Regions from separate parts of the Homo sapiens genome. Here region 1 is linked to region 2. Evidence: fine-mapped QTL for protein levels in blood plasma. Region 2 holds a variant in brackets. A gene starts in the other region. All regions are shown on their forward strands.

What was found. PIP is the chance, under the fine-mapping model, that this variant and not a neighbour inherited with it causes the effect. Protein levels are from antibody-based Olink assays in UK Biobank. Linkage for the fine-mapping came from a reference panel and not from the study's own genotypes, which makes the PIPs less certain.
Region 1: it holds the start of SPOCK1, and the variant in region 2 is fine-mapped to the plasma level of the SPOCK1 protein (UK Biobank, PIP above 0.99).

What each region holds. Positions count from the first base shown.
Region 1 is chr5:137,498,652-137,513,758 of GRCh38, forward strand. SPOCK1 (SPARC (osteonectin), cwcv and kazal like domains proteoglycan 1) reads right to left here and starts at 675. Exons shown (of 11, transcript NM_004598.4): 1 at 528-675. RefSeq lists a silencer at 626-845.
Region 2 is chr12:128,857,361-128,871,942 of GRCh38, forward strand. The region is part of intron 1 of GLT1D1 (glycosyltransferase 1 domain containing 1); the gene reads left to right. LOC124903084 (a long non-coding RNA gene) reads right to left here and starts at 14,355. Exons shown (of 3, transcript XR_007063603.1): 1 at 14,238-14,355; 2 at 11,246-11,391; 3 at 10,238-10,378. The variant T/G (reference allele first, on the strand shown) is at 4,303.

The DNA.
Region 1 (15,107 bases), not on the chromosome of region 2:
GGGACCCCGCGGCGGGCACGGGCAGCGCTCGCGCACCTGGGGCGCCTGTCGCGCCTCTAGACCCAGGGACCCCTCTCACGAATGGGGGACTCATCTACGAACGAGGAGGCTGCGTCACGAATCCGAGGCTGCCGTCCAACTACAGGGGACCCGTCTCGTCTATTCTCCGAGTGCCCCACAGATGCCGCCCTCCTATCAGGGGCTTGGTACCCCTCCCCAGAAGCGGGGAGCCCGGGTCCGCACGCCGCACTCCCACAGACGGTGCGGTGCACACGGCTTTGGGGCAGGAGAGGGGAGAACAGGGCTCCAGCAGCACCCGAGCTCCGGCAAGCGGGGTGGGGGCTGCCAGCAGCTGGGGGTCCCCGGCGACAGCTAAGGGAAAGGTCTCCCTTGAGCGCCCTGAGGTCTCGGGGGTAAGAAAGGCGCGCGGAGGTAACCCCAGGCCCTGACCCTGCCAGCCCCCTAGGCGGCCGCGGGGAGGTCCCAACTACTCCAAGTTGGGGCGCGGGGTTCCTCTGGGCACGTACCTTGGGGGCCGGCCCGGGTCCCCTAGTCCGAGTTGCTCGAGCTCCCGCGGCACGGTCGCCGGGAAGGCTGATCGCCGGCTCGCGCCCCTGCGCTCCTGCCACACGCCGCCGCCGAGCGTCTGGCCGCTTTGTGAGCCCGCAGCGATGTGCTCTGCTCGCTCGCTGGCTCGGGCGCGGCGTCCGCGGGCGGAGGAGGCCGAGCGCGCGAGCCAAGGCTCTGGCGCCCCCTGGTGGCCGCGCGCTGCCTGCCCGACAGCCCGGCCGCCCCAGCCCGGAACGTGGTCATTCACATCTTTTTTTTTTTTTTTTTTTTTTTTAATTTACTTCTATTTTTTTTTTTAATTATACTTTAAGTTTTAGGGTACATGTGCACATTGTGCAGGTTAGTTACATATGTATACATGTGCCATGCTGGTGCGCTGCACCCACTAACTCGTCATCTAGCATTAGGTATATCTCCCAATGCTATCCCTCCCCACTCCCCCCACCCCACCACAGTCCCCAGAGTGTGATATTCCCCTTCCTGTGTCCATGTGATCTCATTGTTCAATTCCCACCTATGAGTGAGAATATGCGGTGTTTGGTTTTTTGTTCTTGCGATAGTTTACTGAGAATGATGGTTTCCAATTTCATCCACGTCCCTACAAAGGACATGAACTCATCCTTTTTTATGGCTGCATAGTATTCCATGGTGTATATGTGCCACATTTTCTTAATCCAGTCTATCATTGATGGACATTTGGGTTGGTTCCAAGTCTTTGCTATTGTGAATAATGCCGCAATACACATACGTGTGCATGTGGCTTTATAGCAGCATGATTTATAGTCCTTTGGGTATATACCCAGTAATGGGATGGCTGGGTCAAATGGTATTTCTAGTTCTAGATCCCTGAGGAATCGCCACACTGACTTCCACAATGGTTGAACTAGTTTACAGTCCCACCAACAGTGTAAAAGTGTTCCTATTTCTCCACATCCTCTCCAGCACCTGTTGTTTCCTGACTTTTTAATGATTGCCATTCTAACTGGTGTGAGATGATATCTCATAGTGGTTTTGATTTGCATTGCTCTGATGGCCAGTGATGATGAGCATTTTTTCATGTATTTTTTGGCTGCATAAATGTCTTCTTTTGAGAAGTGTCTGTTCATGTCCTTCGCCCACTTTTTGATGGGGTTGTTTGTTTTTTTCTTGTAAATTTGTTTGAGTTCATTGTAGATTCTGGATATTAGCCCTTTGTCAGATGAGTAGGTTGCGAAAATTTTCTCCCATGTTGTAGGTTGCCTGTTCACTCTGATGGTAGTTTCTTTTGCTGTGCAGAAGCTCTTTAGTTTAATTAGATCCCATTTGTCAATTTTGGCTTTTGTTGCCATTGCTTTTGGTGTTTTGGACATGAAGTCCTTGCCCACGCCTATGTCCTGGGTCATTCACATCTTAATGCAGGGCTAAAATCAGCTTTCAGGCCCAGGCTGGTGCGAGACAGAAGAGGGGACTGAGGATATGAGGCCAAGACGCAGGCCAGCATGGAGGCATTCTCAAAAGGAAGGCCGTCGGGTTATCTAGATCAAAATCACCTGGGTGGAGAGAGAAGCGAACTTCCTAAAAATGATTCCTGCCCCACCGCCCCACTTGCTGAGTCAGCATTCCTTAGGAAAGCTTCCAAGTCTGCACTTTTAATGAGCTCCCGAGGCGTTTTTTATGCATGGCAAAGTTTGATAACCACCGTCCTGCCATTCCCTGGATAAGTGAATATCTGCACTGCCCATCCCAAGTCATGCACCCACCTGCATCTCTGCACTCCCATGCCCTATGCCATGCTTACCACTGTCCTGCCCCTTGAGAACCGGCCCCAGCACTAACCTGTTGAGTTCCCCTAGATGGGAGGGAGGGGAGAGAGGAAAAACAGATCAGGCTACAGGGACAGAACACTGAGAAGCAGAAGTCTGGTCCTGCCCCATCCCCCACCCCGTTTCCAAATACCAGCAATGTTTGGTGAAATAGGGCTGGAAGGGACTTAATGTCTTCCCCTGCCTGTATACAAGTGATACTGGCCTGTCACCTTTCTCTGTACAACTACACCCCATTCCCCAGACACCTGAGCGCTCTTTCAGAACAAGTCTGACCATCCCATCACCCCTCTCCCCTCAACACAAAATTCTTCACAATGCTTTCCTGATAAAGACCAATCTCCTGGCTGGAGCCCCCAGGCCCCGCACATCTGGACCCCGCCTCTCACCCCACTCTCTCCTCCTCTGACCTTCTGGACGGGCTGGCCCTGACCCCAGTGGAAATGGGCTCCCTCCACTCCTGGGTATTCACTTCTGCCTGGGCTGCTGTCCATACCCAGTCCCAGCACAAGTCTCATTAATTCTGCTCTCTGCTTATTCATCCTCACTTCTTCAGAGACTCTTGCTACACCTGTGGACCAGGCCAGCACCTGCAGTGATGCTGTCTTTGAGAACACAGTGCTTCTCTGGCTGTAAGCTCAACTGATATCACTTACTCTATGTCTGCCTCCCCACCTGGCTAGAGCTCCTGAGGGCAGAGGCTATCTTTGTCTTGTTCACCACTTCTCCCAGTGCCCAGAGTTGACACATTGTTAGTGCTCAAAAAAATTTGATAAATGAATGAATGATTTAATGAATGAATGCCACCCAACCATGTCTGGAACAACAACACATCTCAGCCAGCATGCCAACAATAATGTATGGTGTGATCAATAATAAGTTGCGCTACAAATAATTTGGTTACATATAATAGTTGAATGTGTGGAAGTCAGCAGATCTGTGGTTTTCCCAACATTACTCTGCCTGATTTGCATTCCTAGAAACTTTCTCAAAAGGGAGAAAAAGGAATGGAGTCACAGCTACTATGTTGGGGACTGCACATCATCCACGGTTTATTTTATCATGGAATGCTGTGGGTGGGTGCATCAGAGTGGGAGAGAGGTTTAGAAATGATGAAGAGACTGTTTCTTATGTTCATAGAAACCCAAGTAAGCAGCACTTCCCCATTTATCTGCCCAGTGTGACAGCAAGATCTCTCCAAGGAGTTGTCCCTAAATGTCACTTTTGCCTCCTCACCTCCAACTCATTCTTCAACCCACTCCAATCTGCCTTTCATCCTCACTAACTGAAATGACTTGTCACCATCAGCAGCCTCCTCCAAGTCACCAGATCCAGTGGGTACCCTCGATCCTCCCCAGTGTGGCCTCTGAGCAGTTTCTTTTGGCTCCCGTGGCTCCAACCCTCCTGGCTTTCCTGCTCCCCCCATCATTCCTGCTGACATTCCAGTGCTTCTTAGGGCTCAGACCTATCCCTCTTCTCTCCCCCAAAACCCTTTCCCCAGGTGCCCAAGTCCAGTCCTATGCTGAGATCCTCCAGGTACATTTCCAGCCCAGAAATTCCAATGACTTCTGACTGTACCTCCAGCTTCATACTTTACATCTCCTCAATGCCCCACGGGCACGTCAGATCTGTGACCAGGCCAAAACAGAAGTCTGGATGTCCTCCATGCCTCTGTGTTCTCCTTTCATCCCTGTTAGAGTGAATGTATCCGCATCCACATGGCTGCTTAAGTCAGAACCCCACAAGTCATCTCCAGTTCATCCATCTCCTCGCCCCTCACCTCCCATCCATCAGCAAAGGGGGTCCATCCCACTTTCGAACACCCCCTGGAGCCACCCACTTCACCCCACTTCCACAGATACTCCTGAGTCCACAAGACCATCACTTCTCACGTGAAGAACGACGGTGCTTCTTGGCTGGTTTCCTTCTTTCCTTTCCCTTGCAACCCATTATCCACTCAGGTGAGAGCAATCTTTTTTTAAGAGAGCCTTCTCTTTTTAAAATTTTTGTGGGTACATAGTGGGTGTTTGTATTTAGGGGGTACATGAGATGTTTGATACAGGCATGCAATGCATAATGATCACATCACGTAGAATTGGATATCCATCCCCTCAAGTGTTTATCCTTTGTGTTACAAACCATCCAATTACATTCTTTTAGTTATTTTTAAATGTACAATTAACTTATTGACTATAGTCACCCTGTTGTGCTATCAAATACTATGTCTTATTCATTCTTTCTGTTTTTTTTGGACCCATTAACCATCCCCACCCTCCCTGCAACCCTCCACTACCCTTCCTGGCCTCTGGTAACCATCCTTCTACTCTCTATGTCCATAAGTTCAATTATTTTGATTTTTAGATCCCACAAATAAATAAGAACATGTGACATTCGTCTTTCCATACCTGGCTTATTTCACTTGACATAATGATATCCAGTTCCATCCATGTTGTTGCAAATGACAGGATCTCATTCTTTTTATGGCTGAATAGTACTCCATTGTATATATGTAGCAATCTTTTTAAAATAGAAATCACTCCCTTAAATAAAACCTTTCAATAGCTTGCCATGACAGTAAAACAAAAATTCACATTCCCTCCCATGACTCACAAAGCTTTGCACCATCTGGTCCCTTACCTCTGCCCTTCATTCCCTAGGTTCTAGCCAGATTTCTTCTCATGGTTCTGCAAACTTAGCAAGCTTGGGCCCCACAGGTCCTCTCTTCTGGCCAGGCTCTCTGCCCACAGTGTTCCTTTCCCTGCTTTTCACAGGGCAACTCCTTCTTAGCTGTCAGGTCTCACTCAAATGTCACCACCTCATTGAAGCCTTCCCTGACCACACCTTCTAAGATAGACACTTCCCTCCCAGCCACATCAGCATTCTCTCTTGTTGTATCTGGTTGCTCAGTCGTTCAAGAGTGTTTTACTCCTTTGTTTATTATCTCTCTCTTCCTCAATTTGAATATTAATTCCAAGAGGGCAAACACTGTCTTTTTCACTCCTGTATCCCTGAGCTAATCTCAGAACCTGGCATTCAGTGGGCCCTCAACAAATATTTATCCAGTGGTTCAATGAATGAAGCAAATTCCATAACCCTTGATGCATCCTGAAGTATGAAAGCCCTGTCTAGGGCCATTTCCTTTGTCCTCCTTAAATTCCTTGTTCTGCAGATCCAAGTTCCACTTTCCTCGGGGACCTGTCCCCAGTTTAATCAGAGAGCATCTGCTGCTAGCCATGCTCCAATTTCACAACCGGAATCTTCCCCATAACCATCCCCTGCATGGGAAGGGTGACCAAAGGAGCAGGGGCAGGTGTGGCCATGCTGGATCTGGCCTGAGCCAAGGAAGGACATAACCTTGGAGCAGGGGCAAGGAGGCTGGGAGCTGGAGACCTGCCATCAGCTCAGCCAGCACTCGAGGGGAGAAATGGCAGATTTATTCAGCCGCAGGAAGCACCCAGGACCAAAATCAATACTGAGCCTTGGGGCTGTATTTCTGCTTTTCATTGGCTTATGCACAACTATAATAACTCCTTGTTTTAACATAGTTCTTATTTCTACGAGCCCCACATGTTTTATTTTCAGTTTAATGGATCCTCAAACCTGTGCTACTGGTAGTCAGAAGTAGACATAACTATCACCATTTTATGCTGAGGCTAGGGGAGCCCAGAAAGGCAGATAAATTGGTGAAGGTCACAGAGAGAGAAAGAAAGATGGACCTACTTGCAGAAAGTTCTAGGTGTACTCCCTGACCCCTGTTCATGATGCTATGCTGGCAAGAATCAAATCACCCACTAGGTTCCATCCAATAAAAGAGGTGCCTATAATACCTTATCATCAGCACAGATTTATTTTTAGCTGCAAACTCATATATCTACCTGCTACATGGCATCTCCATTGTGCTGTCTCATTGGCACTCTCTGAATTCAGTGTGTCCAAAATTGAACATCTGAGCTGCATCCCCCCTGTTAAACCTACCCTCTTTCCTGTGTCCCCATGTTGGGGAAACCACTTCCCACCCCACCAAGACCCTAGTGTCACTCTGCCCTCCTTCTCAGCCCCCACTTTCAGTGACTCACTCATCTGTCAATCTCTCTTTCACTCCTTTCAGCTCCACCCACTCCCCACTGCTGTACTTCTAGAATCTACTTCCCACCACATGTCACCTGCACACCACAGAGCCCTTATAAGGGTCTCCCTCTCTCAGTTCACCCATGGTTATTCATTATCCACACAGGAGCCAAAGTGGTCCTCTCTGAAGGTAAATATGATCACTTTTCTCTACTTACTTCCCTTCCTGTGCCCTCAGGACAAAGGCCAGGCACTGCACCATGACTCCTGGTACATCCTGCTAAGCCCAGGGGCCTCTAGATCCTTCTGTCCTGGATGTTCCTGCCCCTCCTGCTCTGGTCACCAGCATCCTGCCCCCTCCACTCAGGCCCTTTCCTGCAGGGCTCGCTCCTGCTGAGACGCTCTCCTCCCTGTCCCCTCTTCTCCTGGAGACAGCCCCACTCACCCTTCTGGCCACAGCTTCTGCAAGTCCTCAGAAAAGTCACCCCTGACCCTCACAACTTTGCACTCATCACAACTGCACAATTGCTTGATGTCATTCTCCCACCTGACATTCAGCGGCACAAAGGCAGGGTCCGGGTTTGTGTCTGTCTCATTTGCTGCTGAACCCATAGTGCTGAAAAAAGGGACATAAGTGCACAATAAATATTGAGTGAATTAATAAATACTCATAGCTCAATTGCATTTGTTTCCTTCCCTTCTTTGAAGCAAAGAAGCTCCAAGGTTTATGTTGAATATTTTAACCCCCAAACACCCCTTGGATAGAAAGTAGGGACTGTGAGGGAATGACATGACCTTCCCACTCCCAGGCTCTTCTGCTGTGGTTTGAAGGTGATGTTGGAATAATTCCTTATCCCAAGAAGAGGAGTAATGAAACAGATGCATTTCTTGACACCACTGAAAGCAGCTCACCCAGCAGGGCCTGTAACTTTTGCGAACACGTCGATTTCACCCATTGATTATATGTATTCAGTAGAGCCAGGCTCACTCCATCTCCCTGCGTCCCTCACAGCCGTTTCCCCCACCCGCCCCCACCCCCACCAACACACACACACACACACACACACACACACACACACATGCCTTCTTGCTTTCTTCCCCCTATGCAGAGCCATGGTGTATGGACAACCCACTTTAGGAGGAAATGATTTTAAGCAAATGAATACCTCACAACAATATGAAAGTAAACACCAGAAAACTCTAATGGCAAAGCAACTACTCAGAAACAGAGAAGAGGATGCCCAAGTCCTGACTACAGAGGAAAAAATCATGAGGGCCACAAAACTACCAACAACATGGGCTGACATGCATGAGCACTTACAGCATGTCAGACACCACAGTCCTGTGTGTTATCTGATGTAATCCTCCTGATAATCCCCCATGAAATAGGCGCTGTGAGAAGCCTCATGTTAAAAACAAAAGCCTGAGTCCCAGAGTTGAGAGATCCTTTATCCCAGATCACTCATTGAGTAAATGGAAGAAGAGCCAGGGACTACTTGACGTCAAAGCTCCCACTATGACCCACTACAGCACTCAGGCACAGCGCTGCCACAGCCCATGGAACCCACAGCATTTCCCTTGATGTCCAAGACTTACGCACTTCATAGTCTGATGGAAAATATGTACACACCTGATCTCTGTTGGCTGAATAACAAGCCCTCTGAGACTTGAAGACAATTTTCTTTTCCTTGCTCAGAAAGGCAATCCAGGTTCTTTTTCCTTTTCTTATTAGCTTTGTATTCATTTACAAAGAGAAATGCAACCGCATGTTGGCATCAGGCTCCACGCAGGCTACAAAGCTCTGGGATAGGCTGGCAGGGCCCTCCTTTCCTCTCAGGGTCAGTGCCAGATGGCTGCCTTTAGAAGGACTGCACAGTGTGGGTGCAATGCGGGCTCATGCCTTGGGGAATAGAAGATGGTGACTGCTGAGTCAACAGAGAGTGAGCCCACAGGACGAGGGTCCCGAAAGAGGCTCCAGCTCACCGAGGATCCCAGGACTGGGAGCAAAATGGAGTTCCTTGAGGAACAAGCGCTCCAAACAGCTTTCAAGCTGGGATGGAAACCAGAGAGCAAAACTGGAGCTGGAGGAGTCCCACACATCCAGAAGGGCCCGGGAAACACAACGAAATGAACCCAACTCGTTTGCAGCACCCCCTGAGAAGCCCCATCTTACTGGAACTCAAAAGGAGTTCCAAAACCACCCACTGAGCTAGCATGAACCAAAACCATACTTCCTGTGAGTATTTCCTAACAAAACTTCCAAAATGGAATACAGATGAGTCAGCAAGGTTCTGCACACTAAATTGAACATGCTCAAGCACCCAGAAATGAACAATACTAGAAACGCATCAGTATTATTATCATTATTATTATTATTTATGCTAAAAACTTTTAACGTGAAATGTACTCCCTTAACAGATTTTTAAGTGTAAAATGCTTAAATATGGTCATTTATGGGCCCAATGTTGTACAGATTTCTAGAATTTATTCATCTTGCATAATTGAAATGTTATACCTGTTGATTAGCAACTTCCAACTCCCCCTTCCACCTGCCCCTTTGCAACTGCCATTCCACTCTCTGCTTCCATGAGTTTGACTATTTTAGATAGCTCATATAAGAATCATGCAGTGTTTGTACTTCTGTGACTAGCTCAGTATCCCCCAGGTTCATCCATATTGTCACATATTGCAGGATTTCCTTCTTTTTAAAGGCTGGATAATATTCCATCATATATATATATATATATATATATATATATATATATATATATATATATGTCACATTTTCTTTATCTATTTACTTATCCATGAACATTAGGTTATTTCCACATCTTGTGAATAAAGCTTCAATGAACACAGGAAGGCTAATATCTCTTTGAGATCCTGATTTCAGTTCTCTTGGATAAACACTCAGAAGTGGAATGCTGGATCATATGGTAGTTCTATTTTTAGTTTTCTGAGAAATCTCTATGCTGTTTTCCATAGCGGCTACACCATTTTGCATTCCCACCAACAGTGTACAAGGGTTTCAGTTTCTCCTCATCCTCACCAACGCTTGTCTTTTTTGTTTTTTTATAATAGCCATTTTGACAGGTGTGGGATGATATCTCCTTGTGATTTTCATTTGCATTTCCCTGATGACTGGTGATATTGAGCATCTTTTCATACATCTGTTGGACATTTGTAGGCCTTCTTTAGAGAAATGTCTGTTCAAGCAAAGATATGGAATCAACCTGAGTGTTCACCAATAGACGATTAAAGAAAATGTGGTGCAAACACACACACACAATGGAATACTCTTCAGCCATAAAAAGGAATAAAATCATGTCTTTTGAAGCAACATGGATGGAAATGGAGGCCATGATCTTAAGTGAAACAACTCAAAAGCAGAAAGTCAAGAACTGCATATTCTCACTTACGGTTGGGAGATAAACAGTGTGTACACATGGACATAGAGTGTGGAACAATAGCCACTGGAGATTTAGAAGAGTGGGAGGAGCATAAGGGATGAGAAATTATTTAATGGGTACAAGGTACACTAATCAGGTGACGGTTACACTAAAAGCCCAGACTTCACCACTATACAATATATACATGAAATAAAACTGTACTTGTACCCCTTAAATTGATAGGATTTCATAATTCTATACCATGTAATTTCTCCTTAAAGTCTCACACATGCAGCTCACACAAGCAGGTTAGTTCACCCCTTTATAGACTGAGAAACTGAGGCTCAGAGAAGAAATTTTAACCATTTACACACTCATCTCCACTAGATTTTTCTTAAGGTCAAAGCATTGGAAGAATTCCCCTGGCTGCACACATATTTGCATATAATTTACAGATGCCTCCAACTATGAAAGACATCCTTAGGCAATTTGCAAGTTAAATTTGTATCATTTCACTCAAGGCATGAAGTGAAAAGGGAATTATCAAGCCAGGGGGAACTGCAGGGGAGACAGCAGGGGTCCCCAGAAATTCTCCCAACATCTTCAGTGGGAGTACACTAAATTCAAGAATTTAGCATCTGCTCAACAAAGGAATATTATGCAGGGCATTAAAATGATGGCTATAAAATCCACGAAGCAACATGAAACATAGAGTGAAAGAAAAGCAAGTTACAGAATTGGGTGCACAGAATGACTTTAGCAGCGGGGAAGGGAAGAGGAAAAGAACCGCACCAGGGACAAGCTGTGACTATGTTAGGGCACAACCGTGGGGAATGTTCTTTTCCTTCTTCCAAAGGGTTCCTAGCATAGATGACCTCTACACGTTTTTCACCCTCTCTGTGCCTCAGTTTCCTTTTTTGTAAAGTGGTAGTCATAATAGCACATATCTATCAGGGTTTTGAGAAGATTAGATCATATACACAGAGTGCTTTGCACCAAATATGACATATACTAAGTGCATGATTAATGTTGGATTGGCAGTAGTGTCTGTTATTCTGTCAGCTCTTAGCCCTCACTTCTGACAAAGATGGTGGAGCAAGAACTCTGTTGGGAGTCATGAGGCCTGGCCCAATCAATGCCAGATTTTCCTGGATGTTCCTAGGACTCAGTTTCTTCTCTTGTGAAATGAAGGGACAGGGCCATGGTACTTCTACCCTGTCGTTGCACTCTGTGAAAAGCTGTATGGTGCCCTTTACATCTACAATTGAAAGTTCCCTGTACTTTCAATCAATTACAAAAAAAAAAAAAAAAAAAAAAGGCTCAAAGAAATTAATGAGGGGCCAGGCTCACGCCTGTAATCCCAACACTTTGGGAGGCTGAGGTGTGCAGATCGCATAAGTTCAGGAGTTCAAGAGCAGCCTGGCCAACATGGTGAAACTTTGTCTCTACTAAAAATACAAAAAATTAGCCCATGCCTGTAGTCTCAGCTACTAGGGAGGCTGAGGCAGGAGAGCTGCTTGAACTCAATTGTAGTGAGCCGAGATCACACCACTGCACTCCAGCCTGGGTGACAGAGTGAGACTCTGTCTCAAAAAAAAAAAGAAAAGAAAAGAAAAAGAAATTAATGAGGAAAATACATCAATGGGAAAATGGGCAAAAGTCTTGAATACACAATTCACCAAAGAACTACAAATAACCAAACTGCCAAGTAACCAAAGTAAAACACATTAAGATAATAAGTCACCGATAAAATTTGCAGATACTTCTAAAAATCATTATTCTCTGGGTTGGCAAAAATGAAAAAAAGTTGCTTTCTTTGTGGGATCATAAACTGGTACAGTCCTCTTAGAGGCCAAGGTTCTTGATATTTATGTTAAGAGCCACAAAATGTTTGTGACCAGTGACTTTGTAACTTCACCCATAAGAATTTAACCTGAAAAGATAATTAAGAATGTTTACAAAGGCTTAGCAACAATTATGTTCTTCTCTGAATTATTTATAATAGTGAAAGCTCAGGAATAACCTAAATGTCTAGAATCAGATTGGTTCAATAAACTATATTCACATAATAGAACATCGTGTGGCCATTAGAAATCTTATTATTTGAGAATATTTAAGAGATGGGAAGTATGACATTAATTGAATAAAAATTCCCAATCAGCACCATCTCTCTAGAAGCAGAGCCTGAAACAAGGATTCTTGAGGAAGTGATTGATTGAGAGCACACTCCAAGAAGGAGAGCAAGGGAAGCAGACAAGTTCAGGGGAAGAAAGCCAAGCAAAGGTGTGGTCTCTGCTAGAGACCACTTCCATCGTGTCCCCAGGGAGCTCAGGAACACAGAGTCATACCCCTTCTTGGTGCCCTTTGAGGGGCTGGTCTTTTGTTTCCCCATGGCATTGGCTGTTGGCTGCCTGGGTGGAGGGGTATGAGGATGAGCAGGGGTGCTCTTTCTTCCACCCCTTGATTCTCTGACTCATGTATTCTGTCTACTAGGGACACAGCACCATCTAATGTCTATTGGTTTAAGGTGTCTATTCAGCCTAAAGGATGTTGCCCCATCCTTGCAGAATATCATCTCTAAACTAGTACCTCAGCTATACCTTCAACAGGCTGTTCCAATCCTTAATCAGGCCAGCAACTTCCGTATGGTATAGTTTTTAAAAGGATCAGTGGATCTCATGAATGTTCTCTCTGCCATAACTTCTTTGCCATAAAAGGCAATGTAATGTGGTATCCCATGCCAGTAGATCAGACACTGATTTGGTCCCTAGCATAGTGGTGCTGGCTGAGACACTGTGGGCAGGAAAGGCAAATCTGACCCCTGAATATGTATCAATCCCAGTCAGAATGAAACATTGCCCATTCCAAGTTGGAAGAGGTCTGATACACAAAGGCTCAGCAATGGTCGGTTTCTGGCAGGTGGAACATTGGGCTGTGGCAGTAGCTAAATTAGCCTTAGGGTAAGGAAACCCATATTGTTGGGACCATACATAGTTTTTATCTCTGCAACCATGGCCACTCCTTTCATCAAACCATGGTGCAAGAAATATAGATGGTATATATGTACAGATTAGTAAAATACATATATTTCCTAGCTCTACGGAGAGGGTCTAGAACAAATGCAACCCAGTATCTACGAGCATACCTAGTGCCTAGGTCTTGATTTCAAAGCACTGTTCTATTCTAAGCACTATTCAATTAAAAGAACTAGGGTTCCTTGAAAAGTGCTTGATTTCAGTGCTAGAGCAGGAAAAATATGAGATAAAGCTGGAACACTTTGTGGTGATAGAAAGTCAGAAAATGCTCACAAAGGATGTGGATTTGTCAAAAGAATAAGGTCTAGATAAATAAACTGTGGTATGTCCAAACAATGGAATATTATTCAGTGCTGAAAAGCAATGAACTATCAAGCTGTGAAGAGACATGGAGGAAGCTTAAACGCATATTACTAAGCAAAAGAAGCCAGGCTGAAACAAGGCTACAGACTGCACGACATTTCAACTATATGATACCCTGGAAAAGGCAAATCTACAGAAACAGTAAACAGATCAGTGATGTCCAGGAAATAGGGGGTGGAGAGGTAAGAATAAGCAGAGCACAGAGCATTTTAGGGCAGAGAAACTACTTTGTATGATACTATAATGAGGGATACATGTCATTAGACTTTGTCTAAACCCATAGAATGTACTGCACCCACTGAAACACAATGCCTATGGATTTTAGTTGATGTCAATGTAGATTCATCAATTGTAACAAATGTACCACTCTGGTAGGGGATGTCGATAATAGGGGAGTCTGTGCATGTGGGGGGGACCAGGGAGTAGGTGGGAAGTATCAATGCCTTCTGCTCAATGTTGCTGTTAACCTAAAACTGCTCTAAATAAGTAAAGTCTATTGAATAAATAAATAATAGAGTCCAAGCTGAAGGAGCTCCTAATGGTCAGAGCTAGAAAAATTTTGGAAAAAAAATAATGATAGTATCGGATTTAACCTACAGAATAAATAAACATACAAATAGGGAAGAAAGGACAGTTCCTCCTTACAGTAGACTTCTAATTAATAAACGTAGAAGGAAAAAGGGAAATAGAAAATCATCATTAGGCAAACACTACAGTAATTGTTGCAGACAAGATCTATCAATGGATGGTAAAATTAGCAGGTGACGGTTTGAAGAAACGTAAGATTTGCATGGTCTCAAAGTATTTCCCCCAAGATATTTGTTAATTATAAAAGGAAGGATAGTAACTTTATTGTGAAGAAACCTTGCAGAAACCACCTTAACCAAGGGATGAACATCAAAATCACCAATAATAAGACATGCTGACATCATGAACCTCTTGATACCATTCACAGAGGATACTTCCTTGGCGTTCCTGCCAAAAATGCATAGCTCATTCCAAGCATGAGAAAACATCAGACAAACCCAAACTGGAGGCATTCCGCAAAATAACTGATCAGTATTCTTCAAAAGTGTCAAGATCATAAAAAATAAGACAAACTGAGAAACAGTTGAAAATTGGAGGAGACTAAAGTGAAATAACAACTAAATGTGGGATTATGGAACAGAAAAGGAGCATTGGTAGAAAATGGGTGAAATTCAAATAAAGTCTGTAGTTTATAGTGTCGTACCAGTGTTAGTTTCTGGCTTTGTACTATGGTTATATATGATGTTAACATTAAGCTAAGCTGAGTGAGGGATATAAGGAAACTACACTATTTGTGCAACTATTACATAAGTCTAAAATTAGTTCAAAATGAAAATTTTTTAATCCAAATAATAAAATACACTTCACATTTTGTAAACCAAGGGAAAAAGAAGAAAGAAAGTATAGACCCAGATAATGCAAACTCTTTTTTATGTTTCCTAAGCCCAAGCAAGACAAATAACTCAGGTAGATAAATAAAAAATCATGTCCACTCCCTAAACCAAACAGAAACTGTATTTAGAGTCTCCACATGCTGTGTTCTTCCATTAGCATGGATAATTGGAAATTGACTGCCTTTAGAAATGATGCCGTTTTTCTCTCTGAGTATAACACAAAATAAATTCCCAGGGCAATGGCCTATGTTATTGAATCCAACAGTAATTAAGTTAATGTATCCTATCTTGTGTGTGGAAGTGTAATTCAGGAGGTACAAATCTTTTATTGAACTCAAATTCAATAGTCATATACAATCCCCCTACTTGTGGTGTGTACAAAGGTTGTAGGAAAATTACAAAAGGTGATACATTATATTTTTATTCTTATGAAGACTGGGTTTATTCACCTGACACAAG
Region 2 (14,582 bases):
TTCTTTTCCTGGCTGTGCAGAAGCAGAATAAAGGCTGCTATTCAGGCTTTGATGTTTATTCAGACCAGGCGTTTGTTGTCCTTCACCTCAGGAAGGATTGCTGGGGGAAGAAAAAGAAAAAAGCAGAAGTTGCTTGAAGACATCTTCTGCCTTGTGAAAGCTTAGTCTCCTTGAGGAAATGATGCTGGTGTCCTGGACGGGCGGGGAGGGAGGTTCCCTTGGTGACTGAGAGTCCCTGTGATCTAATCAGCAATGAGCAGTGAGGACTGGATGTTCTCCTCCAAAATCTCTGCCAAAGACCCCGGAGACCACCTTCAACTGACCCTGGACACTTGGTGAAGGAGTTCCCCAAATACGTAAATCTGGAGTTCCCATCAGCCTGGCAGAATAGGAGGTCAGAATTAGGTAAGACTGAATTTAAAGAAAAAAAGAAGGGGTTCTATTCTTGCACAAGTTGGTCATTGTAAAGCAACACCCCATCTATAAGTAAGGGTGCTAAATCCTCATGAATGTATTGGCCTGGGAAGCACAGAATCCTCTGGGGACATATAGGTGGGGACCGATCCCAGATCAGAGGTCAGGGAAAGCCTTCTCGTGCCTTCCAAGCCCATTCCCTGTTGAAAAATGGCAAGGTCCAGACCAAGTTTGCTTTGTGGCTCAGTGTTCTTTTTCATAATGAGGATGCCAATATGGGTTGTGAATGGAATTAAAAGAGTTAATACACTTTCAGCGTTTTTAAAGCAGTGTCTGGAACATAGTGAGGACTAAGCTCTGATTTTTTTATCTTGCCCAAATTCCTGTCTAAGGGGTCTGGGAGTCATGCCCTACAAACCATAAAATCCCATCAGATGGGTTTTATTTGACACTGTATATCGTGACTTACCTTCCAGTCTGACTCTGGCATAACATTATGAGACAAGAAAAAAAATCAAAATATTTAACCCCAAAACATGCTTCTGTGCCATATCTTGAAATGGCCCTGCAGAGCCATCCTTTGTGGGAGGAAAATCTGCATCTGTAAAGAATTTCTGCCGGGCCTGGTGGCTCACGTCTGTAATCACAACACTTTGGGAGGCCAAGGCAGGTGGATCACTTGAGGTCAGGCATTGGAGACCATCCTGGCCAACATGGTGAAACCCCGTCTCTACTAAAAATACCAAAATTAGCTGGGCGTGGTGGCACACACCTGTAATCCCAGCTACTTGGGTGGCTGAGGAAGGAGAATTGCTTGAACCCAGAAGCAGAGGTTGCAGTGAGCTGAGATCACACCATTGCACTCCAGCCTGGGCAACAGAGGGGGACTCAGTCTCAAAAAAAAAAAAAAAATCTCCATTAACATAGCTAGATCTTTTTCTTCCATGCCCTCCCAATCCTGAAGAGATTAACTAAAAGTCTAGCACCTTTTAAAGATCTGAAGAGGAAAAATTTGTCATTTATTGTTTCTAAGGGCAGCCACCGTAAGACTTCAAAGGAACGTTGGTCTCCACAGTCTTTTATCTTAACTTGAACATTTCCTTTCTATGGATCCCAGGTCTTAAGACAAGCCTCAACCAATTGTCAGCCAGAAAATGTTTAAATTGACCTATAGCTTGGAACTGCCCTTCCTCCCCGCAACCCCCATGCTTTGAGTTGTCCTGCCTTTCTGAACCAAACCAATGTATTTCTTAAATGTATTTGATTGATGTCTCATGCCTCCCTAAAATGTGTAAAACCAAGCTGTACCTCGACCTCCTTGGGCACATGTTCTCAGGACCTCCTGAGGGCTGTGTCACAGGCCATGGTCACTCATATTTGGCTCAGAATAAATCTCTTAATATTTTACAGAGTTTGACTCTTTTCATCAACAACAGTTGTGAGCTATTAATCAGCATAATGGGCCTTAGTTAGCAAGGTGGGAGAACGGAGGGGGAGGCGTCTTAGGCAGAGCGTCAACCAATGGGATGGGAAGAGACCATCTCTTCCAGAGCTGAGAGTCACGCAGCCTTCACAGCACAGAATCCTGTAGATCAGCGACTCTGCCTCCGGAAGAGCATGGGGCACAGAGGATGTGCCGAGGAGGGGGAGCCATTTTGCCCCCAGGGCCGTTGGGCAAGGTCTGGAGACATACTTCGCTGTCACCACTAGTGTTGGGGGCTACTGGCATTGAGTGGGACGCCACTCCACACCCTGTAGTGCACAGGGCAGCCCCTCCCCAAGAGTGACCCTGCTCCACATGTGAACAGGGCTTTGCTGATGAACCCTTCTCTAGGTGGGGTCAGGAGATGTGGCTGGAGAGGGAGACAGGGCCACGCGACACCTTCAGTTTTGTGCCAAAAACAGGATTGCACCATGAAAGGCCATGAGATTTGTGTGTAGTTGAAAATCATGTATGTATTTGGGTTTGGCATATTTAAGAAGTAAAATGAACAGGACTTGGCAGTTGAGTGTGGGGAATGAAGGAGAGAAAAACCTGTGATTTCCTTCATGATAGAGGGAAAATACTGGGAAAAAAAGACAGGAAAATCTAAAGCTTCTGCTGTCTAGTAGTTTTTTAGAAGATGTAGGTGACAGAATGGAATAATGTGTTTCTTGGGCAAAAAATCTGGGGGATCAATAACTTGAGAATTGATGTCGTATTGTCTGTGTGTCACGTTAAATATTCTTCAGTATAAAGTGTTCAGGGTGTGTAAGTTTCCTTTAAGTATAACCTGTGAGCTGCTAGCGAGTATTCTGAATACCCTAATGTGGCACCTACACTCTAGAGATGTCTCCTAAGCAATGTAACATTAGCAACCCACGTCAGAAGATTTGTTCATTAGCATAAAGCATTTCAGAAATTAGGCTGGCGCGGTGGCTCACGCCTGTAATCCCAACACTTTGGGAGGCCGAGGCGGGCAGATCACCTGAGGTCAGGAGTTCAAGACCAGCCTGGCCAACATGGTAAAACCCCATCTCTACTGAAAATACAAAAATTAGCCAGGCGTGTTGGCTGGCACCTGTAGTCCCAGCTACTCGGGAGGCTGAGGCAGGAGAATCGCTTGAACCCAGGTGGCAGAGGTTGCAGTGAGCCGAGATTGTACCACTGCACTCCAGCCTGGGTGACAGAGTGAGACTCCGTCTCAACAAAAAGAAATTAGTAGTGTCTAAGATATGTGGTTCACTGGGAAGACGACACAGGCTTTTGACCAAGAAGTCAGGGAGCCCTCACCTGCTGGGCAGCCCTTGAGGGGTTGCCAGCTCTATTTGGTCTTGCATCCCTGCCATAACCCTCTGTCATCTGGCTTAACTAGATTGGCTAGTGTGGCTGCCAGTATGGTCCAGTGTGGACTCGATCCTTCGGGCAGGGTGCTTGGAGAACACAGAGAGTTCTGCAGCCCAGCAGAATAGACCGTTTTGTGTGTGTGTGGCTGAATCTGGAGTGAGAGTTCCTCTCATTGTAGGGCACACCTGGTGGTGAGGTTGGAAGGAAGAGGTCAGAAGGGTCCCCACCCCCCTCTGATCCCCTGAGAATGAACATTTGCCAGGAGAGCCAGGCCGTCCTCACGGAACCGGGGAAATTGGTCTAGGTCAGTTTCTAACGGTGAAGTTCAAAATTAAAAGCAGCTCTGGTAAGTGAAAAAATAGAGTCTGACACCTAGAGAACCAAGTTCATGTCACCTGTGGAGGGGGATAAACTGCACAAGGAGTGGATGTAAAAAATATTCACGCCGAGAGTAAGTTGTGGAGTTGTTTCAAAGGGTGCCCCCCGTTATGCTAAAACAGGAGGCTAGTCCTTGGAAACACTGAAATCATCTTCTAAAACCAGGGCGACAAACTGCTGCCTGCCCGGGGTGAAACGCAGCCTCCCTGCCAGTTTTGTAAATAAAGTTGTAGTGGCCCCAGCTATACTATTATACGCTTACGTGTTGTTCACATTTCTGCTTTTGCTTCTCAGGGGCAGAATGGAGTAGTTAGAACAGAGGCCCTCTGACCCACGAACCCAAAGGTATTTCCTCTCTGTCTGCTTCCAGGAAAGGCCTTCTGACCCGTGCTCTACATCTTGATATCAGATATTCACTAGATAACTGAGTTGCATGCCTAGGGTATTGTCTGCAGAGCTGCCAAGGGTACTGGGGAAATGCGTGAAGATGGTCTCGGGAAGAGAACAAAATAGAGCATTTGGTCCTCCTCGGCCCAGAGCAGGGAAGCCCAAGGGGCAGTTCAGTCCAGCCAGGAGTGTGTTGACATCAGAATGATGGCAAATGTTGTCACACTCATAGCTGGACTTGGTGCAGCGGGGTGGTGACTGTGTGTTTGTTGTGTTTCTCCATCTGGAACGGAGAG[T/G]GCAAAGGTGTGTTTGTCGGAATGGGAAGCATTTTAGATAATGGGGGCAGATCGGAGCACTACAGGACACGGACCAGAAAGGAGAGAAAGCGAAGGAAGAAATGCAAACATCCTTTGCATCCAAGGCAGTACTTTCCCTTCCAGGCCCGGCTACTTTCTGGCCGCATCATTCTGAATTCTCTGTGTCAAGCATTTGGGAAGAAAAAAAAAGTATGAGGAAAAGTTTTCAGGTTTTCTAGATTTTCTTTTGAGGAGTCAAAGGAAAGTGTGAATGCAGATGAAGTTCAGACAAGGAGGCTATTTTATTTTTTCTGCCTTCCTTGGTTTTGTTTGTTTTTTGAAGATCTTGTTACTAATTTTTCCACGTCCAAAGATAGCCATTGAGGCCAGCCGCGGTGGCTCACGCCTTTGATCCCAGCATTTTGGGAGGCTGAGGCAGGCAGGTCACTTGAGGTCAGGAGTTTGAGACCAGCCTGGCTAACATGGTGAAACCCTGTCTCTACTAAAAATACAAAAATTAGCTGGGCATAGTGGTGCATGCCTGTAATCTCAGCTACTCAGGAGGCTGACACAGGAGAACTGCTTGAGCCTGGGAGGTGGAGGCTGCAATGAGCCAAGATTGCGCCACTGCAGTCCAGCCTGGGTGACAGAGTGAGACTCTGTCTCAAAAAAAAAAAAAAAAAAACCACAAAGATAGCCATTGAAAGTTGTTGCTGGGCGCTGTGGCTCACTCTTGTAATCCCAACACGTTGGGAGGCTGAGGCAGGCAGATTGCTTGAGTTCCGAAGTTTGAGACCAGCCTGGGCTACATGGTGAAACCCCATCTCTACAAAACATACACCAATTAGCTGAGCATAGTGGTCCCAGCTACTCAGAAGGCTGAGGCAGGAGGATCACTTGAGCCCAGGGAAGTTGAGGCTGTGATGAGCCATGATGGCACCACTGCACTCCAGCTTGGGCAGCAACAGAATGAGACCCTGTATCACACAAAAAGAAAGTTGTTAATATCTTCATTCAGCAGATATTTTTTGAGCGTCTCCCATGGGTACAGTGCTGTGTAGGCGCTACACACAGAGCCGGCGTCAGCAGTCCCTGTCCTCAGGAGGCAGCCGCTCAACCACAGACAGCTTGCGCACATCAGCTCGATGCTAAGCATTGTCACTTGGAAGACAAGTCTAGCATTCTAGCATGGAAGACAGACACAAGCACGTAATTACCCAAACATTTGTCTGATTGTGATACGATCAGTGCTATGACAGAGAAGTGTAGGGTGATGACAGAGAGAGGACTCTGAATAGAGCCGACCTAGTTCCAGAGGGCGTAGGGTCCAAGGAAGAGCTTCCCTTTCCCCCTCTGAGGGTTCACTGAAAACCAGCTGGGCAAAGACAGACTCATAGGAGACACGGCACACACCTGTGTTGGTCATAGTTTTACATGACATGGGAGCCTTCAGAATGAAGACCCAGAGACACGAGAGACTGGCCAGTTTATGCTTAGGTTCAACAAGGTACGGACAGCCACATGGGAATAGGATGGGATGAAAAGGGTCTGATCGAACACCGATAGACTGCTTGGGGAGGCCCAGCAAGGCGAGTCTGTCTGGATTCATCTTCGCCCCTCTGTGCAGCCTTCTTTCCTTCTGGTACAAGGCAGGCCCGCTCTGGAATGGGAGCTTTGTGACTTGCAATCAAACAAGGTAGTTTGGATAATTTATTATTTTTTTTTTTGAAATGGAGTTTTGCTCTTGTTGCCCAGGCTGGAGTGCAGTGGCGTGATCTCGGCTCACTGCAACCTCTGCCTCCTGGATTCAAGTGATTCTCCTGCCTCAGCCTCCCAAGTAGCTGGGATTACAGGCATGTGCCACCGCACCCAGCTAATTTGGTATTTTTTTAGTAAATAGAGACGGGGTTTCACCATGTTGGTCAGGCTGGTCTTGAACTCCTGACCTCAGGCGATTCACTCGCCTCGGCCTTCCAAAGTGCTGGGATTACAGGCGTGAGCCACCGCACCTGGCCTGGGATAATTTCTTTATGGTCAGGTTTTACACAGGAAGGCAGGGGAAAGTTAGAGTAATAATTTTGGGTTTCACTGGCTAACGCAGTGAAACCCCGTCTCTACTAAAAATACAAAAAAAGTAGCCACACGTGGTGGCGGGCACCTGCAATCCCAGCTACTCGGGAGGCTGAGGTAGGAGAATGGCGTGAACCCGGGAGGTGGAACTTGCAGTGAGCCAATATCGTGCCACTGCACTCCAGCCTGGGCGACAGAGCAAGACTCCATCTCAAAAAAAAAAAAAAAAAAAAAAAAGTGTATAGATCTGAATACTATCTGGAAGGACCCTGCGATGCTGTGGCAGCGGGGAGAGAAGAGCACTAGGGGGACTTCCAGGGGCCTGGCTTGTGCCGCTGTGTGCACTGTGGGCAGGTCCCTGCACGTGGAATGCTGGCTGATGCCAGCTCGGCTGGGGCAGGAGAGTCTTAACATGCTGACTGCGAGGTGCCTGTCAGACGACACACTGTAAGTTTTTGTTGAATTAGGGCAGTTGCAACCCACGGGCACTCCGAGAGGCTTCCGGGCTGAAGATGAGAAGCTGAGTGTGGGATGAAGTTTGCTTAGTCCTGCACTAGGGGTGGGGCAAACTGGGATATAACATGATCAGAAAGGAGACAGGCTGGGAAGGCAGAGGGCCCCGGAAATCCAGAAAACTTAGGGAAGCCGAAGAAGAGGAATTTCCCAAGCAGAAGGGCTGGTTAGCGAGGCTGGATGTTGCTAACAGGCCCATCTGCTCAAGACGCCAAAGGGGCAGTGAGGGTTGGCACCTGAAGGTCCGTGGAGATCTTGTCTGATCTTGTTCCGCAGGAGTAGTGGCAGGTGGAAGCCCAGGAGTGGGCAGCCATGGGAGATGGAGACGGTGAATGTGTGCCACACTTTCATTTCCAGAAGTCCTTTTGCGATGAGCAGGGGAGGAGAGAGTAGAGCCTGATTCGGGGAGGATGCTGGGTTGCTGGGGAAACCTTCTAAGGGGCTCGGGCATATTTGATGCTGCCTGAATGTGAGTGGGAAGAGGAAACAGGGAGAGGCATGACTGTGGGGGTGGTTAACTCCTGAGCTGTTGGGGAGGGGTGAGCTGGAGAAGGAGTGTGGCCTCTGCTGGGACCTCAGGGAGAGGCCCAGAGGCCTGCATGTGCCAGAGGGGTGGGCATGGTGGGGGGCACTTGACGGTGTGCCTGTCTTGCAGCTGTGACTTTCTCTGTAGAGGAGGCAAGGCCATGAGCTGCTGGTAGCAGGACAGATAAGGACCTCAGAGGCTGGAGGAGAGGGAAGGTGTCACCACCCCAGCCCTCCCTGGTTCATTGCCAAAGCCTCTTAGCTTGTCTCTTTTCACTTTCAACACAGCAGTCAGGCTGAGTCTGGTGAAATGCTCAGCCAGATTGCATCTCTTCTCTGCTTCACATCCAACACACGCCGAGGCTTCTGCCAGGACCTGCTATCCTCTGCGCTGTGGGCCCCTCAGTGACATAACCTTCCCAGACCCCTGTGAACTCCCAAAGCCCAGCACATCCCACGTCAGGCCCATAGCACCTGCTTTTCTGATATTCTGATATAATACCCACTGATGTTATTTTTTGTTTATTTGAATTTATTTTTAAAATTTACATTGTTACTTTTAGTTTGACAACTAGTAATTATATATATTTATGGGATACCATGTGATGTTTTGGACTATGAATACATTGTGGAATGATTATATCACGGTAATGAACATGTCTATCACCTTGAAGACAGTCAGTATTCCGTATCTGTGGGTTCCATGTCTGCAGTTCCAAGCAACTACAGATCAAAATGTTAAAAAATATATAGAAATAAAAAACAACACAGGCCGGGCCCGGTGGCTCACGCCTGTAATCCCAGCACTTTGGGAGGCCGAATTGGGCAGATCACCTGAGGTCAGGAGTTTGAGATCAGCCTGGCCAACATGGCAAAATCCATCTCTATTAAAAATACAAAAATTAGCCAGGCGTGGTGGCATGCGCCTATAATCCCAGCTACTCGGGAGGCGGAGGCAGGAGAATCGCTTGAACCTGGGAGACAGAGGTTTCAGTGAGCCAAGATCGCACCACTGCACGCCAGCCTGGGTGACAGGGCGAGACTCTGCCACGAAAACAAAACAAAACAAAACAAAAAAACCCAAAAAACCAAAAACCCCCCCAAAACCCCAAACAATACAGCAGAACAACTATTGAATAGCATTTCCATTGTATTAGGTATTATAAGTAATCTAGAGATGATTTAAAGTATACAGGAGGATGTGTGAAGGTGATATGCAAATGCTGTGCCATTTTATATCTGGGACTTAAGCATCCTTGGATTTTGTTATCCACAGATTCCCAGGGGTGATTGTACCTTTTTTTTTTTTTTTTTTGAGACAGAGTCTTGGCTCTGTTGCCCAGGCTGGAGTGCAGTGGCATGATCTTGGCTCACTGCAAGCTCTGCCTGCCGGGTTCATGCCATTCTCTTGCCTCAACCTCCCGAGTAGCTGGGACTACAGGTGCCTGCCACCATGCGTGGCTAATTTTTTATATTTTTTAGTAGCAACCTGGTTTCACCATGTTAGCCAGGATGCTCTCGATCTCCTGACCTCGTGATCCACCCGCCTCAGTCTCCCAAAGTGCTGGGATTACAGGTGTGAGGCACTGCGCCCGGCAATTGTACTTATTATTTTTTGTAGTGAAAACATTTAAAATCTTTTTTTAAGCAATTGAAATATACAGTATGTTATTATTGATGATGGTCACCATGCTGTACAAGCTATTCCTCCTCCTGCCCCCCACCAAGCCCCCCAACAGCCTCTGGGAACCACCATTCTGCTCTCTACTTCTGTGTGCTGGACTTTGTTAGCTCTTCATCTTTTCCCCCACAGTATCCACGTGGTTCGCTGCCTCATCACCTTCAGGCTTTTTTTTTTTTTTTTTCTTGAGACCAAGTCTCTCTCTGTCACCCAGGCTGGAGTATAGTGGCACGATCTTAGCTCATTGCAACCTCCATTTCCCTGGTTCAAGCGATTCTCCTGCCTCAGCCTCCTGTGTAGCAGAAATTACAGGCGTGCGCCACCACACCTGGCTAATTCTTATATTTTTAGTAGAGACAGGGTTTCACCTTGTTGGCCAGGCTGGTCTTGAACTCCTGACCTCAGGTCATCCACCCAATTCGGCCTCCCAAAGTGCTGGGATTACAGGCATGAGCCACTGCGCCAGCCACCTTCAGGTCACCTTCTTTAGCGGGAACTCCCCTGCCCACCCTTCTCAAATGGCAGCCCCTTCCACCACACACTGTCTCCCCGTCTCCCTGGGGCTGGTGGTTTTCCTCCCGAGCAAAAACCTGCCTCTGACATAGAGGAGATTTGCAATTTTCTGGCTCATTGACCTTTTCCCTGCTCTAGAAAGTTGGCCCTTGGGCGCAGTGGCTCACGCCTGTAATCCCAGCACTTTGGGAGGCCGAGGCGGGCGGATCACCTGAGGTCAGGAGTTTGAGACCAGCCTGAACAACATGGTGAAACCCCGTCTCTACTAAAAATACAAAATTAGCCGGGCGTGGTGGCGAATGCCTGTAATCCCAGGCATGTACTCGGGAGGCTGACACAGGAGAAATGCTTGAACCCGGGAGGCAGAGGTTGCAGTGAGCCGAGATCGCACCATTGCACTCCAGCCTGGGCAACAAGAGTGAAACTCCTTCTCAAAAAAAAAAAAAAAAAAACAGAAAAAAAAAAAAGGAAAAGAAAAAAAAGAGAGTTGGCACCTGGAGGGCAGGGATTTGTGCATGTTTTGTTCTTTACTGAACCCTCGTTGCCCCAGCGGTGCTGGGCATACAGCAGGTGCGCTTGGTCACTGAAAATGCATGAGAGGTTCCGACGCAGTAGTGAGCAACTTGGGATCCCATCTCACAGATCTCCACTTACCCTCTGCCTCGGGGGTCCCCCAGCAGGCGCCAGTGCCTGGGGCTGCCATGGAGAAAGCTGACCTGGAGACTCTCCAGGGCTGGCGTTGTTCCAGATGCTCACACGCTTACTACAGAAAGACTGGGGGACGGGAGTGGTTAAGGTGTTGACAAGAAAGTAATTGAAATGGCGGAGCATGGAATCTCCCCAGAACTGGGAGAAAAGCTCGGAGGGACTGTGGGTCCGAGGGGGCAGAGGTCAATGGTCTGGAATTCCGAGGAGGCCAAAGGACTCATAATGGAAGGATTGAGGGGATGAGAGACTGCGATGGATTGTGTATAAACTAACAATAAGGGCGCTAAGCTATTACTGTGGTGTGGCTTAGAGATCTTCAGCCTTGAGTAATTGAATTGAAAGCTAAGTTGAATTGAAAACCCAACCTAAATTGTCTTGGACAATAAAGGGAATGTAATGGCTTTTGCCATAAGAAGGCTGGAGGCAGGGCCTCCTCAGGGTGGTTTTCCAGCAGAGGACAGGGACAGGAGTCCACTTATCTCCGTCTCCTGCATCTGCTTCCCTCTCCTGGCAGAATCTTCTCGCCAGCCCCTCCTGGGTCTCCCTGAATCCCAGGTCAGGCCCATGGAGAACCTCTGAGGTTGAGTCTCTGAAAACACGACCCAGGTCCCAGAATTGAACGTCTAGGGGTGGGTGTGTGGAGAGCCGGATGTTTTGATTGGCATGAGCCTGCAGGAGCACCCTTGGATCTGGAGATGGGGCTCGTCCTCCTCAAGTAAGTGCCAGGGAGGGTCGAGGTATTAGGAAGGAGCGTGTGGGAACAGACACTAGAGGCAACACCCCGCCCAAAAGCGTCACTCGTCCGTATGGAGAAGGGAAATGGGAAACGCAGGCCTCCGGGAACTTCTGAAGATGTAGAGGACTAACAGGTGTTGTGGATCTTGAAGGAGTGAGAAATACCATTAGGGAGGTTGGAATTGGGGAGATTCTCACAGATGTTGAAATGCCTGGCTTCTCTGGGTAGATTGGTGACCTTGTAGCAGTGAGTAGCTCCTCGATCAGCTGGGTGCCGACTGCCAGAGCCAGTGGGGTCTGACCTTGCACTCTCGCCTAGAAGCATAATGTGAGCCCCATGGGTCCTGTCAGATTTTCCAGTAGTCACATTAAACATAGCAAAAAGAAACAGATAAAATCAACTTTAATATTATATTCTCTTTCACTCAACATGTCTAAACATGATTTTGATCTATTTTGTTTGTTTTCTTTCTTTTTTTTGAGATGGAGTCTCGCTCTGTTGCCTAGGCTGGAGTGCAATGGCACGATCTTAGCTCACTGCAACCACCGCCTGCCGGGTTCAAGTGATTCTCCTGCCTCAGCCTCCCGAGTAGCTGGGATTATAGGCATGCACTACCACGCCCAGCTAATTTTATATTTTTAGTAGAGACGGGGTTTCTCCATGTTGATTAGGCTGGTCTCGAACTCCTGACCTCAGTTGATCCGCCCGCCTTGGCCTCCCAGAGTGCTGGGAATACAGGCGTGAGCCACCGCACCCAGCCTCGTTTATTTTTTTCTTTGACAGGGTCTCACTCGGTCGTCCAGGCTGGAGTGCAGTGGCACCGTCTTGACTCACTGCAGCCTTGTCTTCCAGGGCTAAAGCCATCCTCCCACCTCAGCTTCCCGAGTAGCTGGGACTACTACAGGCGTGAACCACCACGCCTGGCTACTTTTTGTATTTTTTGTGGAGACAGGGTCTCGCCATGTTGCCCGGGCTGGTCTCAAACTCCTGGGCTCAACCCATTCACCCGTCTTGGCCTCCTAAAGTGCTGGGATTATAGTTGTGAGTCACCATGCCCAGCCCCATCTATTTTGAAATAAATTATATATTTGAAATATTTATGATATAAATAGAATATTTATAAAACATATTTGAAATACACATTATAAATATGTGTATACATATAATTTATATATTTACGTATAAGTAGTAATATATATTATACGTGTGCATGTCTAACCGAGCTGCGTGTGTCTTTCACACTGAGTGCCTTTCTATTTGGATTAGGCACAGTTTTAGTGCTCAGCTGCCCCAGGTGGCTTTCTTTATCTTACTGGACTATGGGGGCCTGACCCTGCAGATGGGCGTCCCCTCCTGTTCGGTGCAGAGCTCATCCTGTCTTATGATTTCACCATCCTCACCTCCAGTTCATTGAATTTCACCTGATCTCAATTGACATTTGAGTTCAAGACACTTCCTGATCTAGTCACTTTGCCTGTTAGGTGATTGAATTTTTGCAGTCTTTTAAAAAAGAGTTCCTGTGTGTATTCTATTTTTTTTTTTTTTTTTGAGGCAGAGTCTTGCTCTGTCATGGCTTACTGCAACCTCTGTGTCCCAGGTTCAAGCAATTCTCCTGCCTCAGCCTCCTGAATAGCTGGCATTACAGGCATGCACCACCATACCCAGCTACTTTTTGTATTTTTAGTAGAGACGGGGTTTCACCATGTTGGCCAGGCTGGTCTCAAACTCCTGACCTCATGTGATCCACCTGCCTCAGCCTGTTGGGATTACGGTCACTCCAGCCTGGGCGACAGAGTGAGACTCCATCTCAAAAAGTAAATAAATTTGCACTCCAGCAAATATTTTTGAGACTGTCTCAAAACAACAACAACAAAAAAACAAAACCAAAACACAGAAATGACCAAACTCTACTGTACACTCAAGTAAAGAGTCTGGTTGCTGGCCGGGGAGCCACAGAGCGTCTGTGAATCTTGAGTCAGGCGCGCACACATAGGCTTCTTCTCTTTGTGGACCTGCCAAGTGCCCAAAATCTCTATGGGAGATGCTTTTGTTTTCAAGAAAGCCTTTTTAAATCAAATCAGAATTATTTGGGAATAATAGGTGCTTAGTGAATTTATTAGTTGAATTGAATTATTACTTGACAGAAGGAGAGAACATAGATCGATTTAAAGGTGTTGCAAGTCAGCCAGAAACAAGGGTACAATTTTAGTTCATGAATAATTTAGATTAGACAAATTTATTTAGAATATTTATGAGATTGCAAAGTTAGTGTCAAAATGCCATTTAAAAATATGCTTAATAGGCTGGGCACGGCGGCACACGCATGTAATCTCAGCACTTTGGGAGGCTGAGGCAGGCGGATCACCTGAGGTTGGGAGTTCGAGACCAGCCTGCCAACATGGTGAAACTCCATCTCTACTAAAAATACAAAAATTAGCTATGTGTGGTGGCACGTGCCTGTAATCCCAGCTATTCTGGAGGCTGAGACACAAGAATCGCTTGAACCCGTGAGGCAGAGGTTGCAACGAGCTGAGATTATGCCACTGCACTCCAGCCTGGCCCACAGAGCAAGACCGTATCTCAAAAACAAACAAACAAAAACACCTTAATAAATCAGAAACTACCGATTGTCTCTATGTAACCACCTGCATTCCACGCACTCTGCTGTATCGATTCTGCATAAGTCATGAGTCCCTCAGGAATGGACTCTCCAAGTAGAATTCAGCCCCTTTTCCATCTATCAGTGTTTATTTTTGGCTTCTCATTTCTTAGAGCTTTACGAAGAACATAAAATAGCAATTATTCAACCATGGTCAGAAGCATGTTGAATCCTTATTTTTGTGTGATGTATTTTATATTTTTTTAGGCTGAAGCGAGCTGATAGCTTGACTGCTGCAGGCATCTTTCCTGATCCTGCTGGTCAGTTACCTTCAGCATTTCCAAAGGATACTAGGTTTGGTGGGGAGAGAAGGAATGTTACTGACCCACAATGACTGGATCAAAATTAACAGTGAAAATGGTAGGCTCAAGATACACGATGCACTTCAGTAAGTTAAACCAACCTAAGTCTCAAGACCCTAGTTATTCTTTATTTGCACAGTGATGTTGTGACACTTTACGTTATGAAAAAGAAACAGAAAGAGAGAGAGAAAAATATCATCCACATATTAGTACAGTGTAGAATCTCACCATATGCCCCAGGGTCAGACGATTTGAACCTCATGTTTCTCTGTGGCTCCCACAGTCCTAGCAACTTGGTCATTTTATGAACACAGTGTTTAAAGGCTCTAGACCTCCCCCTACTTCCTCCTCCTCTGATCTTTGTCCTCCTCTTCTTTGTTTTACTCATGATTTTGTGCAATATTGCTCCTAAATGCACACCAGTTAATTCACCTGGTGTTCAGCTGAATAAATAACTATTTCATTGCTGGAATTACAAAAGAAAAAAGGGCTAGGTTGGACTTGAACTTTGTTCTATAGTACTGTCTGGATGATTTAAGAGATTTTCAAGGGTAATTTTTTTTTAATTTATTT